4 linked regions of the Homo sapiens genome follow. The protein of the gene in region 1 interacts with the protein of each later gene in a pairwise test. Each region holds a gene or a part of one and is shown in the gene's direction. Other genes may lie near its edges.

The links. Proteins that work in one complex are often made in the same cells at the same time.
Region 2: the proteins of RNF19B (region 1) and BTG4 interact in a two-hybrid assay, tested with the Homo sapiens proteins (one study listed by BioGRID).
Region 3: the proteins of RNF19B (region 1) and TAP1 interact in binary tests that used the Homo sapiens proteins (3 or more experiments, as listed by UniProt).
Region 4: the proteins of RNF19B (region 1) and SEC23A interact in a two-hybrid assay, tested with the Homo sapiens proteins (one large-scale study listed by BioGRID and IntAct).

Annotation. Positions count from the first base shown.
Region 1 is NC_000001.11:32,943,762-32,948,638, reverse strand, and holds part of RNF19B (E3 ubiquitin-protein ligase RNF19B), read left to right. Parts: intron 1-272; coding exon of another isoform or gene 273-275; coding exon 276-417; intron 418-2,074; coding exon 2,075-2,237; intron 2,238-3,010; coding exon 3,011-3,125; intron 3,126-4,479; coding exon 4,480-4,620; intron 4,621-4,877.
Region 2 is NC_000011.10:111,502,387-111,505,886, reverse strand, and holds part of BTG4 (protein BTG4), read left to right. Parts: intron 1-3,500. UniProt on the Homo sapiens protein: Adapter protein that bridges CNOT7, a catalytic subunit of the CCR4-NOT complex, to EIF4E.
Region 3 is NC_000006.12:32,850,905-32,855,186, reverse strand, and holds the start of TAP1 (antigen peptide transporter 1), read left to right. Parts: upstream 1-1,482; 5' UTR 1,483-1,550; coding exon 1,551-2,148; intron 2,149-2,425; exon of another isoform or gene 2,426-2,592; intron 2,593-2,684; coding exon 2,685-2,799; intron 2,800-2,947; coding exon 2,948-3,078; intron 3,079-4,037; coding exon 4,038-4,243; intron 4,244-4,282. Other genes in the region: PSMB9 (proteasome subunit beta type-9 precursor), read right to left, coding at 898-957. UniProt on the Homo sapiens protein: ABC transporter associated with antigen processing. In complex with TAP2 mediates unidirectional translocation of peptide antigens from cytosol to endoplasmic reticulum (ER) for loading onto MHC class I (MHCI) molecules.
Region 4 is NC_000014.9:39,034,328-39,037,235, reverse strand, and holds part of SEC23A (protein transport protein Sec23A), read left to right. Parts: intron 1-2,908.

The DNA of each region.
Region 1 (4,877 bases):
AAGGAAATCTCCTTGCTAGAATGTGGTTCAAGTGCTGTGTAAGATGCCAGTTGTTGGGATAGGCAGCTCAATAAGAGACAGGATTCATTTTATGAAAATTCCTGAGGTCTAGACATAGCCAACCTTCCAGTAAAGTGGGTTGTACAATTTGGAGTGTTCAGTGAAGAGTTCTTGACTGCTGCCTCATTTCTTATATATACTCCTAGGAACAATTAAATCAAACTGGATTTAACTAGGGGTATTTTTTCTACCCATTCTTCCCCCACTCATAGCAGATGACATCAAGCCATGCCCACGATGCAGTGCATACATTATCAAGATGAATGATGGAAGCTGTAATCACATGACCTGTGCAGTGTGTGGCTGTGAATTCTGTTGGCTTTGTATGAAAGAGATCTCAGACTTGCATTACCTCAGGTAAGATGGGAAATGCATCCATTCCTTTCGTAGTCTCATTCTCTTACTGATTTAGGGAAAAGGATGTCAAAAAGACACATCCGTTCTCTCATTACAGGTTTAAGGAAGCTGTGAAAACTTCTTCTGACATGCTCCTCTAATCATGTTTTCACCAGCTACTATTCTGTTTCTACCTTTCTTTGCTTGCCATATTACAGGTAGTCTGGACTTGCTTTTTCCCTTTTGCTGTCTTGCCTCCATACTTGTTCATGTTCTTTCCTTTGCCTAGAATGCTTTCTGCCTACCTTCCAGTATCCTCCTTTTATCTCAACTTGTTCAGTTCTTATCTTTTAAGAGCCACTTAAATGCCTTTCATCCATGTTGCCTCTCCTTTTTCCGCCTCATTCTTTGACTTTCTTTTATCTTTTGTCATAAATATCGTCAGTACTTTACACTTCACGTACCTATCTTATCTTACTAAACTGTAAGTATCTTGAGGCTAGAGTTGTGACCTTTTTACAGTTTTTTGCATTTAGTGAGTTCCCAAGGAATTCATTAAGTGAATTCTTTTTTTTTTTTTTTTTAAGACAGAGTTTCTCTCTGTCGCCCAGGCTGGAGTGCAGTGGCTCGATCTCGACTCACTGCAACCTCCACCTCCCAGGTTCAAGTGATTGTCCTGCCTCAGCCTCCTAAGTAGCTGGGATTACAGGCACCTGCCACCATGCCCAGCTAATTTTTGTATTTTTAGTGGAGGCGGGGTTTCACCATGTTAGCCAGCCTGGTCTCGAACTCGAACCTCAGGTGGTCCGCCTGCCTCGGCCTCCCAAAGTTCTGGGATTACAAGCGCGAGCCACCGCGCCCAGCCTCATTGAGTGAATATTAAAATGTTGTGGAGGAGTTAATATTTACAAACAAAATGTTTGCTAATATTTACAAATAAACAAAATGTGTTAATATTTACAAACAAACATTCATTGTGTAAATGAAACACAACACCTTCATTGCCAATTTGTCGAACATTTGAGTACTTACTGTGTGCTAGTCATTGGGGACATAGGGGTGAGTAAGACATGATCCCTATTTTCAAAATTGTTTATCCCTTCTAGTGGAGAAGATAGCACAAAGAGAATGGGCAAAAATGGTTGGGCACAGAAGGGCTGACTGTAAAAGTAGCCAAACTCAGAATACCAAACTGATAGAAAGGTTATGATGAGGTCTTTTTATATCCTCTCCCACGAACATGGTTTGCAGTATCTATTAGGTATGGTAGGACATATGCCAAGAAAACTACACAAATCAGAGTGTTCATTAGTGCAGGGTGCAGTGTGTCTGGATGGGATGTCAAGTGCATAAGGCTATGCAGCATCCCAAGTATTGTCAGTCATGGAAGCTAGATCAGTTTTGGTGGGTTAGGGAAGACAGAATTCAGCAGAGAAGAATGGAAAAGGAATTTCAAGTCTGGAAGCCTGTCTTTACAACAACAACCAAAAAAGTTAAAGAGCCCAGAGCTCTAATAGTCTGGCCTTGTCCTTTGCTCTCCCTTGTGTAATGTATTCATTTCCCATAAACTCTTCTGTTAATCCTTACTGAAAAGAAGGCTGTTGCTGTTATCAAGCCCTATGATAATACTAGCTGTATTTGTAATGTTGACATTAACTTCAGTCTGTTTCCCCTGCAGCCCCTCTGGCTGTACATTCTGGGGCAAGAAGCCATGGAGCCGTAAGAAGAAAATTCTTTGGCAGCTGGGCACGTTGATTGGTGCTCCAGTGGGGATTTCTCTCATTGCTGGCATTGCCATTCCTGCCATGGTCATTGGCATTCCTGTTTATGTTGGAAGGAAGGTAAGAAAGACATGCTGGTTTCTGTGCTTGTTTCAACTTTAGGTTCGTTAGTAAAGGTTTGAGGGAAATGGGAAGGAGCTATGTTTCAGAGCTGCCTGAAAACCAGCTGGTTCTTAGATAAAAATAACCTTACTTTCTTAAATGGATTTTCATAAACCCCCATGAGATCTGAAAGTTCTTATTAACATCCTGGGCCTGGCTTGTCTCAGTGACTTAAAGGTAGAATGCTGGGCCAGGCATGATGGTTCACATTTGTAATACGTGGCCTAGCACTTTGGGAAGCCAAGGCAGGTAGATCAGTTGAGCCCAGGTGTTTGAGACCAGCCTGGGCAACATGACAAAACCCATCTGTACCCAAAAAAATAGAAAAATTAGCTGGGTATGGTGGCATGTGCCTACAGTCCCAGCTACTAGGGAGGCTGAGGTGGGAGGATTGCTTGAGCCCAGGGACGTAGAGGTTGCAGTGAGCCAAGATCGCACCACTGCACTCCAGCCTGCATGACAGACTCCAAAAAAAAAAATAAAAGAAGAAGGTAAAATGCTTACTTCATTCTGCTGGAGTTATTTTGTCTCTTTTTGGATTAACTTTGCCTGTATTACTTTATATCTTCCAGGTCTGAGTTAGGTTAAAATTTGATAAAGATGCCTATTTGGGGTAGAGGATATGTTTTAATATAGATAACTTACAAGTGAATATTCACCTGTCCTTTTTTTCTCTGGCAAAAGATTGATGTCCTAACCTGCTGACCTGGATTTTCTTTTTTTATTCTTAGATTCACAGCAGGTATGAGGGAAGGAAAACCTCCAAACACAAGAGGAATTTGGCTATCACTGGAGGAGTGACTTTGTCGGTCATTGCATCCCCAGTTATTGCTGCAGTTAGTGTTGGTAAGCTAGTCAGGACCACACCTCTTCTCTCTCAGCTTTCTGACCATAGCAGTTTAGCCAGATGGCCAGATGTTTCTCAAAGACTCCTACATTTTATGCGAACCCACCTTGATAGTAAATTCTGTTAGGCACCATGATTATGATTATTTTTAAGTTTTTCAAGCACACCAAATTATCAGAGTGTGCAATCTTTTGTTCTTAAGTTAGTGCCTAGAACTCCATTTGGCACATAGAAAAGGTTGAATTACAGAAACTTATTTTAAGCCCTAGTTTTCACCTTTCATCTTCCTTCTCTACTTGCCATGAAATCCACAAAACAAAATTACTTTTGTTTTGATTTGTTTAATGCTTCACATTACTTTGGGAGGCATAAGAGTTTGTTTTAGAATAATAATAGTGTAACTAACATTTAATGTGGCTCTTCATGTGCCAGGAGTGGTTCTGAGACTTTTGCATATATTAATTTATTTAATCCTCACAATCCTTACAAAAGGAAGCACAATTTTAATAGAAAGGTGCAGTAATTGGCTGGGCGCAGTGGCTCACGCCTGTAATTCCAGTGTTTTGGGAGGCCGAGGCGGGCGGATCACGAGGTCAGGAGATCGAGACCATCCTGGCTAACACGGTGAAACCCCATCTCTACTAAAAATACAGAAAATCAGCCGGGTGTGGTAGCGGGTGCCTGTAGTCCCAGCTACTTGGGAGGCTGAGGCAGGAGAATGGCGTGAACCTGGGAGGCGGAGCTTGCAGTGAGCCGAGATCGTGCCACTGCACTCCAGCCTGGGCAACAGAGTGAGACTCCGTCTCAAAAAAAAAAAAGAAAGGTGCAGTAATTTTCCCAAGGTCACTTAGCTGGGACATGAATCAAGTTAATCTGCCTTCAGATCCTGTTCTCTTAACAGCTAAGCCATTCTACCTCACACAGCAGTAAGATTTTGGAATTAACATCCTGAGGAGATCCTAAACTCCAAGCAGTAGTCACTTATTTAATATTTGATTCTTGATTGGCTCTTGATTGGGTTAGCATTTCAGCAGTGATTAGAAGAGGGGAAAATGAAAGCAACATATATTTACTGTGCAAAACACAGTACATAGCATTCTCATTTGATTATTGACAACCCTGGGAAGATAGGTCCAAGGTTATACAGCTAGTAAATGGAGCCAAGAATCTAATCCAGACCTTTCTGATTTCTAGCCTGGTCATCATTCTGTTACACCAGGCCACCTTTTTGGGATAGCCACTTTCTGTCTTCCTTTCTTTATAAAGTGGTTTGTCCATGCCCAGACTGGGAAGAAGAATTCAGGGCACTTGCAACCTAATAGCCAGCTGACATGTTTCCTTCTCTTCCCCCAGGTATTGGTGTCCCCATTATGCTGGCATATGTTTATGGGGTTGTGCCCATTTCTCTTTGTCGTGGAGGCGGCTGTGGAGTTAGCACAGCCAACGGAAAAGGAGTGAAAATTGAATTTGATGAAGATGATGGTCCAATCACAGGTAAAAAGCAGGATGTTTATTTCCATTTGAATTTATGATATACAAGATAAAAATCAGTAAAATTCAGCGCATTTTACAGGGAGATTGTCATTGGATTACTTTGGATAATGAGCTTTGTAGGGGGTAAAGTATTTTTAGCTTTTCATTTCTTTGTTCCAAAGTTATTAGGTTAATTCCCCTGGTACTTGCCTCTGTGTGGCAGGTACAAACTAGTAGGAATCCAAGTAACTCCAAGTATGCTGGTAGTAGTAGTGATT
Region 2 (3,500 bases), on another chromosome or scaffold:
GTGATGTTGAGCATTTTTTCATATGTTTGTTAGCTGTTTGTATTTCTTCTTCTGAGAAATGTCTGTTCATGTTCTTTGCCCCATTTTCAATTGGTTTGTTTTATGTTTGTTGAGTTGTTTGAATTTCTTGTAGATTCTGAATACTAATTCTTTGTTGGAGGTATAATTTGTAAATATTTTCTCCCATTCTGTGAGTTGTCTTTTTATCCTATTGATTATTTGTTTTGCTGTGCAGAAACTTTTAGTTTATGTCCTATTTCTCTATCTTCGTTTTTTATTGCGTTTGTGTTTGGAATCTTCATCATAAATTATTTGCCTAAGCCGATGTCCATAAGGAGTTTTCCTAGGTTTTCTTTTAGGATTTTTATAGTTTCAGTTTTGATAGTTTTACATTTAGGTCTTTAATCCATCTATAGTTAATTTTGTATATGTTAAGAGATGGGGAATTAGTTTCAGTCTTCTGCATATGGCTAGCCAGTTTTTCCAGCATCATTTATTGAATAGGGTGTCTATTTCCCATTGTTTATTTCTGTTGACTTTAATCGAAGATCAATTGGTTGTATATATGTAGCTTTATTTCTAGGTTAGAGAACCCCATACTGTACCATTAATCTCTGGGTTTATTTTTGTACTAGTACCATGCGATTTTAGTTACTATAGCCTTGTAGTATAATTTGAAGTCAGGCAATATAATGCCTCTGACTCTGTTCTTTTTGCTTGGGAGTTCCTTGGCTATTTGGGCTTTTTTTGGTTCCCTATGAACTTTAGGACTGTTTTTCCTAATTCTGTGAAAAACAAGGCTGGTAATTGGATAGGGATTGCATTGAATCTGTAGATTGCTTGGGTAATATGGTTATTTTAACCATATTAATTCTTCCAATTCATAGCATGGAATGTTTTTCCATTTATTTGTGTCATCTACAATTTCTTTCATCAGTGTTTTGTAGTTCTCCTTGTAGAGATCTTTCACCTCCTTGGTTAAATGTGTTCTGAAGTATTTTGGTCTTTTTCGTGGCTATCCTAAGTGGGATTGGATTCTTAATTTGGTTCTCAGCTTCAATGTTACTGTTTATAGAAATGCTACTGATTTTTGTACATTGATTTTGTATCCTGAGACTTTACTGAAGTTGTTAATCAGGCCAAGGAGTCTTCTAGAGGAGTCTTTAGGGTTTTCTAGGTATACAATCATATTGTCAGTGAACAGAGATAATTTGACTTCTACTTTTCCAATTCAGATGCCTTTTATTTTTTTCTCTTGCCTGATAGCTCTGGCCAGGACTTCCAGTACTATGTTGAATAGGAGTTATCTTGGTTTCTAACTTGAAACGTTATATAAATGTATGTATTTTTTGTGGTCTTTCAAACAATGCCACTTACATTGTGAATGCTCAGTAATGCAGATAGAAAATACAAATTAGGAAGAAGCTTGTGGCGGATAAAACACTTGCTTAGTATTATTGGTAAAGGAATTTTATTTTGATTAGGCTGCACTAAAATTAATTTCTTTTGAGTTCAAATCAACATTGTATGGCTGTAGAATTTTATTAGATAATGTTTTGGGAAATGCAATTTTGTTTCAGCAATTAATGTAACTTCCTTTTATGTGGCTTGACCATAATGGAACTGAGTTTATGTGTGGGTTACAGAATCAGTTCATTATTTTATAAAATAGTGCTACTTGCTTGCTGTTGTTAAAAAAATACTTTCTGTCAGAAGTGGACTTTTGCTAAAACATCTATACCTTTCCCCTCTTTAGCAATAACATGTATTTGTGAATGGAGGGGTGAGACTACGGATATAACTTGTAGTTTAGGGAGGGAAGCTAAAGAAATGAAATGGGGTTATGATAAGACTGGTTATTACATCACAAGTCCAGCAAATTTAACATTCAATTCAGATGATATTTTAAAATTACTTTGTCTATTTTAAAACTTTTATAAGCATAACTATTTTCATTTTATAAGTGAAGTTTAGCAAAAACCAAGAAGACAAATGTAGAACCAGATTTTCGAGTTTTACCTTCATCGATGAACTTTGGGGCTTGACTATTCCTTAGCCATCAAGTTGAATTTCCTAATTTTAAAATGAAGAATGCAATTCTAGAAACTATTACTTGTACAAGGTCATGTCAGTCATATTCATGTTTTATACCATTTGATTCTCTGTTACAGGCATAATAGGAAATAAAATATGTGTATGTTGCTTCACTGCCTTTCTGTTCTTCATCCTCACTCCAAATGGCCAGAACCTCTTATTTCTTGTTTTCTGTGGTTCTTCGCCCAGACATAATCCCCTCACCCAAACAGAACACCATCCTGTTGCTCTACTATGGATAGTTCACTGGACATTTTCAAAAAGATATCCTTGAAAGACAAGGTTTTAAGCAAGGGAACAAATGTCTTATAATGAGAATTTTAGACATGACACAAGGATAGTGGGAGAGTTGTTCAAATTTCAGCAGTAATTTTCTCTTCTACTTAGCTCTGGGATTGGCTTAGGCCAGACCAGGTTGGTCTTTCTGCTAAATTCTGACATCTTGTCAGTGGACATTACTACTTGGGTATTTAATTGCCATTGAAAGCTCAGTATACCTCAATCTGAATGAATCACCATTTGTTTTATACCGACTCTTCCACTGAACTTCATTCTTTCAATGATAACATTAATCTGTTGGTTACAAGTGTTTGAAACTTGGGGTAAATTTTGAGTATTTCATTTCCCAAACTTTACATCCAAGTAGTCACTTGTGTATGTATTTGGTTTCCCTCTCTAGATGATAAGCCTCTTGAAAGGAAAGTTGAATTTTGTTTTTACCCCCAGCCCCACTAATACTTAGTGTCTGTGAAGTAGGTGGTCAGTAAATAGTCACTAAGTGAGTGTTAATTAAAACAGAAGGTGTAGTTGTCATTAATGTAAAGGAGGTGATTTAAATAAGGTGTTTCAAGTCATAAACAAGTAACGGAAGGAAACCTTGCATGATGTTTACTTTTTATTTGATTGTTCTTTCCTGAAATCTAAGTACATTGTTATTCTACTGTTCTATTCATAACTTTCAAGGCCTGCCTGGGCCTGTTGCAGAAAATAATGCTAGGAGAGGGTTCAAAACCTCATTAATGTACTTCACCAACTCAAAGTGCAAGGGAACAGTTTGTCATCAGGAAGATGAAGTAATGAAAGAATTATAAAAACACCTGGCACCATTCTATTATTGTAAATGCAAACTGACCATTTGAAAAGAAAAAAAATTTTGTGTTTGTTAATGCATCTGTTGCCTTTAGTTCAGAAGCAAAATTTCAGCAGTATACAAGGAGTTACCCTAATTTTCAGCTTTGTCCCTTGTAACATAAATTTTAAAAAATAATCTTTGCAAAAGTTACCCTAGCAAATGGCTAGAAAATACGAGAATAAATGATGCAAATTTGTCCTAATAATCTGTTAAACTTAAGGCATTATTAAGCAATCAAAAGTGTAAAATAAGCTTAAAATCTTCTTCACAGCTA
Region 3 (4,282 bases), on another chromosome or scaffold:
GGGGAGATTTCCCAAATTATAAGTGGTTTCACTGTGTCTTTCTTACCAGGCCGTAAGTTACTCTGGCCCCAAAGGACGCTCCTCTGAGTATGCTTTCCGACGGACCGACTTATCATGAATAGAGGGTCAAAGAACAGGGTTAACTTCAAGTTAGAGGCTATTCCTCTCTAACAAAGCCGCCCCCAAGCCACGAGTGGTGGCAGTAGTCCAGAGCAGAAGCCAGCCAGCCAGTCTTGGGGCTGCCATCTGCCCCAGGCGCCCATCCTAAGCAAAGTCCCCCCAGTGGGCACATGGGAGTGGGCAGGGAAGACACAGGGAAGGGAGTAAGGCAGCATCTGGGCCAAGGAGAGGCCTTCCTGGGTCAAGCTAGGGAAGGGCATCACTAGTTAACACAGAACGCCCATTATCAGTGCTTGGGCTAAGAGTTGCCCAGTGGCAAGTTTATCAAAAGTCTGTGTGATGAGTTGGTCCTTCTCAATAAGTGCCTATATTTCCTTCTCCCAAGTGCTGTTCTACTTCACCCAGGGCACCATTTCCTCATCTCTTTGCACCATCCCCAACCCCCTTTCTTGATTTAACCAGCCCCCACTGTCCGGGACCAGAGTGAAAGCGAAAGCGCTTTAGAGTAGCTTCCCGTTGACGCTTCCAGCTAAGAGTCAAAGCACCCGCTTTTTCCACCAGCCTCGCGTGCCTGTTCCCTTCACGGACACTCTAGACGACCCCCCTCAGAAAAGAAATACTCTATGCTCATTGCGGGTTGCAAGCGCTGGCTGCTACAGGCGACCTCCCTGCGCTCCCGTTGGTCTCTGCATTCACTTCTCCGCGCGCGCTTCCAGGGTCCCCTGGCCGCTGCATCTCCTCCACCCCTCTGCCAACCCTCAAGCCCAGACCCATTACCCCGGTGTGGACTTCTCCCGCCCGGGGTAAGTCCCCGGTTGGTGCTCCCGCCCGCAGCATCCCTGCAAGGCACCGCTCTCCTCGCCGCCTGGGGCACTGGTTTCCAACCTGGGACAGCGCACAACGCGCAGCCGACAGCCCCGCCCCTTCGCGGCGCCGCCAGGAGGCGCCTGGGTGCTGCGGGGCTGCTTTGCGCGCGGCGCTAACGTGTGTAGGGCAGATCTGCCCCGAGACAAGTGACGAGGCAGCCCCGCCCTGAGGCTGGGGTGGGAAAACTGGTGCAAGTGGAAAGGCAGGAGGCAGGGAGAGGCGAGAAGGGTGTGCGTGATGGAGAAAATTGGGCACCAGGGCTGCTCCCGAGATTCTCAGATCTGATTTCCACGCTTGCTACCAAAATAGTCTGGGCAGGCCACTTTTGGAAGTAGGCGTTATCTAGTGAGCAGGCGGCCGCTTTCGATTTCGCTTTCCCCTAAATGGCTGAGCTTCTCGCCAGCGCAGGATCAGCCTGTTCCTGGGACTTTCCGAGAGCCCCGCCCTCGTTCCCTCCCCCAGCCGCCAGTAGGGGAGGACTCGGCGGTACCCGGAGCTTCAGGCCCCACCGGGGCGCGGAGAGTCCCAGGCCCGGCCGGGACCGGGACGGCGTCCGAGTGCCAATGGCTAGCTCTAGGTGTCCCGCTCCCCGCGGGTGCCGCTGCCTCCCCGGAGCTTCTCTCGCATGGCTGGGGACAGTACTGCTACTTCTCGCCGACTGGGTGCTGCTCCGGACCGCGCTGCCCCGCATATTCTCCCTGCTGGTGCCCACCGCGCTGCCACTGCTCCGGGTCTGGGCGGTGGGCCTGAGCCGCTGGGCCGTGCTCTGGCTGGGGGCCTGCGGGGTCCTCAGGGCAACGGTTGGCTCCAAGAGCGAAAACGCAGGTGCCCAGGGCTGGCTGGCTGCTTTGAAGCCATTAGCTGCGGCACTGGGCTTGGCCCTGCCGGGACTTGCCTTGTTCCGAGAGCTGATCTCATGGGGAGCCCCCGGGTCCGCGGATAGCACCAGGCTACTGCACTGGGGAAGTCACCCTACCGCCTTCGTTGTCAGTTATGCAGCGGCACTGCCCGCAGCAGCCCTGTGGCACAAACTCGGGAGCCTCTGGGTGCCCGGCGGTCAGGGCGGCTCTGGAAACCCTGTGCGTCGGCTTCTAGGCTGCCTGGGCTCGGAGACGCGCCGCCTCTCGCTGTTCCTGGTCCTGGTGGTCCTCTCCTCTCTTGGTAAGGGGAACGCAGGGCAAGAGGGGAGGACACAAGGGGACTGGGACAGGAATCAAAGGTAATTGTCAGTAAGGTAGAGTAGCGTGGGTTCTGGGAAATGTGGAGCAGGAGAAGGACTCCTAGCGTGGGTCTTGGAACACCACTTCGGTGTAGAAGAAACGGCACTGGACTGGCGGGGGCCAGAGGTTCTGGGCTCCATTGCTGACCGGGTCTTGATTCTTTGGGCCACGCCGGAAGCGGGGAAATCCTTTGCTCTGGGGCCGAAGGGCGGGGCATCCTCATCTCTAACAGGAGGCTTTTCTACTTCATGATCTCCAGCCTTCCTAATAAAATCCTGAAAGTTCTGGTAGAGCAACCACAGGGTAGTGAGTTCCAGGGCAGCCTATTTAGGTTCGGGATTGAGACGTCAGTGTTTCCTTTCTGCTGATGCCCTCCAGGATAATGGTGAGGGGGAGGAGGCGTGGTGGGGCCAGTCTGACTGGAACTGACCTACTTAGACTTAATATTTGTGCGTGACCTCTCTTCTCTTTCTCCAGGGGAGATGGCCATTCCATTCTTTACGGGCCGCCTCACTGACTGGATTCTACAAGATGGCTCAGCCGATACCTTCACTCGAAACTTAACTCTCATGTCCATTCTCACCATAGCCAGGTCTGGGGGCTGAAAATGGGGCACCCTGCAAATGAGGGAGTTGGAAGTTGGGGCTGCTGTCCGAAATGCACTTATATGGGGATACCTGGGACCTTCAGTCTGTTCCCTGAACACACCCTGATCCCCTTTTTTTCCGGGTTCTTTATAGTGCAGTGCTGGAGTTCGTGGGTGACGGGATCTATAACAACACCATGGGCCACGTGCACAGCCACTTGCAGGGAGAGGTGTTTGGGGCTGTCCTGCGCCAGGAGACGGAGTTTTTCCAACAGAACCAGACAGGTTTCTCCTGAAACTCTTTCATTATACGCCATGTACTGTTCATATCCTCATACATCTGCTTTGATCTCCCCCCTCCCCGCTCTCTCTCTCTCACACACACATACACACATTGTTCCTTCTCATTCTTGATATACCCTCTCCCTGTCTCTCTCTCTCTGTCTCTGTCTCTCTCTCTCTCTCTCTCACACACACACACACACAATTGTTTTTCTCATTCTTGATATACCTCAGGAGCAAAATATTGTCCTCCTTACCTTAAGAAAAACCTAGAGTTTTCATCTAGCATTTTCTTATAAATCTATTCCTATGTATCCTTAGATAGAAACCATAGAATTTCAAACCTGGAAATTTTGAGCTCATAGAGACCAACTGCCTCATCTGACAGAGAAGGAAACTGAGGCCAAGACCCTAAATGCTGAAACTGCACAGTTACATATGGCTAGAGACACACTTGGGGTTAGAACCCTGGTCTCTTGAGTGCTCCACAGACTTCGGCATGCTTTCTAGCAGCACTAGAAGCTGTACAGTTACATATGGCTAGAGATAGACCTGGGGTTAGAACCCTAGTCCCAGTGAGTGCTCCACAGACTTTGGCATGCTTCCTAGCAGCACCCTCCTCCTCCATCTCTGTTATGTGACCAGTTTAAGCTCTTCCTGCCTGTGTGTATAGCATGGGACATACAGGTTCTCTAGGGAACAGAAAGCTTTCAGGAAAATGGAAATTCACATGTGCATTAATGACTTTATAATTAAAATGAAGGTCAGGCCTTTCCTCTTTAACACTCATCTTCCCTGCACTGAGATTTGCAGACCTCTGGAGAACCCTAACCTTGTTTCCTGCAGCCTCCTTAGAACCCCATGTTGACACCCCTGACCCTGGCATCCTGGCTCATTGTTAGTTCGTCTCATCACTTGGAACCTGTCTGATTCACCTCACTCTCTTCTCCCCAACCCTGCAGGTAACATCATGTCTCGGGTAACAGAGGACACGTCCACCCTGAGTGATTCTCTGAGTGAGAATCTGAGCTTATTTCTGTGGTACCTGGTGCGAGGCCTATGTCTCTTGGGGATCATGCTCTGGGGATCAGTGTCCCTCACCATGGTCACCCTGATCACCCTGCCTCTGCTTTTCCTTCTGCCCAAGAAGGTGGGAAAATGGTACCAGGTATGTTCATGGAGTTGGCCCGCTCTACACAGACCCTCA
Region 4 (2,908 bases), on another chromosome or scaffold:
TGGCCATGTTGAGTGGGCTGTTGGCAATTTGGGTTTGATGGTCAGGGCAAGAATGAGAAAGGTGATAAAGTCATCACAGTAAATGCTTGTCTGAAGAGAGAGTAAAGAGGTAAAGGAGAGATGAGACAAAAACTTCAGGGGAGTACAAGTGGTAGGAGTGTTTAGTGAATTATCAGAGAGGCAGAATGAAAAGAATAGTATGTCATAAAAGGTGACTTTATAGAAGGAAGAAGAAGGAGGTAACAAACTGACATGCCGCAGACAGTTGAAGAGGGATACAGAGTGAGAAAAGGTGCTTGGATTTGATGGCTAGGAGGTTATTCGTGGCATTGTGTAAGCGGCTTTAGTATGGTGGTTGAGTAAGAAGATAAATTTATAAGGAATTAGTGGGTGAGAAAGAAGCGGAGGTCGAAAGTATAAATGATTCTTTTGCAAATTTAACCTGAGGATAAGCAGTAGGATAGGCAGATGATTGTTATTACGGTAAGGGCACAGAACTTATTTGGAGACCAAGCATAGGAAAGACACAAAAGAACAGATATTTAAGATCCTCAGGAGACAATATGATCATAAGCAGTATATGGACGTTAAGCATTGGTAAGGAGGCAGGGCACTTATTTCTGCAAAAGCAAAAGGTAAGAAGGGTGAAGACAGAAAGGTTTTTAGGTGGAGTGAAAACTCACATTGGATAATTGCCTGTTTCTTTTCAATAATATGAGATTATTTAGGAGTGAAAAAGGCTGGAGTTAGGGGCCAAAAAAACTAGAAAAGATTAAAAACAGTTCTAAAGAATACAAAAATCAACTGAAGATTAATAAAACGCTTTTGCAGCAGTGGTGAGGGCCTATTTTATTTACTAAAAATATCTAGAGCATGCTTCCATAATGTTCTTTTTTTTTTTTTTTTTTTTTTTTTGAGACGGAGTCTTGCTCTGTTGCCAGGCTGGAGTGTAGTGACGCGATCTCGACTCGCTGCAACCTCTGCCTCCTGGGTTCAAGCGATTCTCCTGCCTCAGCCTCCTGAGTAGCTGGGACTACAGGCACACACCACCATACTCAGCTAATTTTTTTGGTATTTTTAGTAGAGATGGAGTTTCACCATGTTGGCCAGGATGGTCTCGATCTTCTGATCTCGTGATCTGCCCACCTCTGCCTCCCAAAGTGCTGGGATTACAGGTGTGAGCCACTGTGCCTGGGAGTATCCATGAATAGATTTTAATTGTTTCATGAGGGCGGAACCCTTATGACCCAGTCACCTCTTAAAGGCCCCACCTTTATACTGCCACATTGGGGATTTTCAAAATGAGTTTTGGAAGGGACAGATATTCAAACCATAGCACCGTCCTACAATTGCATGATTGAATTTGTGTAATATCCCTGTCCTGTCATCCCTTTTCCCGCCTCCATTTTTTATGGCATTGCTCCTGTTAGATTATTAATTACTTGAGGCAATAACTGTCATTTTCATTTTTGATTTTCCATAGGACCTTAAACATAGCATATATTGAATACAATAGATCTGGACAGGAGAGAGCAGAGATTAGAATATTGGAAATCTGTGGAGGTGGCTAGGAGTTAAGAGTTTTTGTAATATAGGTAAATAAATTGAATCCCAGGTCCAAAAGTTCTAAAAGTTGGGGAGGTTATAAAAAGTAATCTTGGAAGGGTGGAAGGCTGGTAATGGAAAATGCAGACTCTGCAAGTTACTTGACTTCTCTTTGTTTTCACTTCCTTGTCTATAGAGTTTAATAAAACATGCTTGAAATGGACAGTAATACTCAGTAAATGTTAGCTATTAGTTTTCACTATTATCAATGGAAAAAAAAGTCACTTCTTATATTTAACATGGGAAAGGAAACCTATTTTAAACTCTGAAGTGTAATTGTTACTGCCTGGAAGTAGGGGCATTACAGGCATAAATAAGAGTGCTCAGGTCTTTCTTAAGATTTTTATGAGTAATGATGTCAATATTTTAATAATCATAATATCTAATACACTGAATCTACTGTTTTAGTCACTATGCTTTTAGTGTACTCTCATTTAATTAACTTTTATAAGGTGGATACTAGTAATCCTATATTTCATGAGAGGAAATTGAGGCTCATATAGATTAAGTATTTTATGCAAGATCATGTAGCTAAACTGTGGCAGGGTCTAGATTTTAACCAAGGTCTAACTCCAGACTCTGAATTTTTAATCAAGTTAATTTGATGATTGCATTTAAAGGAAATAACAGTAACCAAGAATTTTACTAAAAATTAATGGACTCTAATAGCTTACAGGATTTTTTGGGGGTCAGAAATCAAGGACCCTATGATAAGTATTATCCATGAACGGCCGTAAGAGGGCACCACTGCAACACTTCTGTGACAGTGCTGGAGGCCTCTGTTGCTGTAGTGCCTCATATACTAAATAATGTAAAGCTTGTACCTTTCTGCCTAATCCTGGATATATTTTAAATAGAAAAAGGGTCCATTTGAAAAGTTGAGATCAGCTAACTGCTAATTTTTTATAAAATCGAATGAGCATTGGTATTTATCATTTCAAGCAGGAGCTCTGTGGTATATAAATTAGGAAATCCTTATATTTTGTCTTGACTAGGAGAAATGGCTCTGAGATTGGGTGACTTGAGATGGAAAACATTGTAAAATGAAAATAAAATCAGGCATAGTTACAGGAAGAAAAAAGTAAGAGCCATGAGGTTGTTACTGGTTTAGGTTACAGTTTTGAGACTTGTGCTTTTCTGTGTTAGCTATGCATATAGAATAAAGAAAAGTATTTCATTGTTATAGATTTTTGAACAGGAGGAACAATAGAAATAGCTAAAACATGTATGTCTACTGTGTGTACTAGGTACTGTTCTGTTTGCTTTATAGAATTTAACTCATTTAATCATTACAACAACTTGT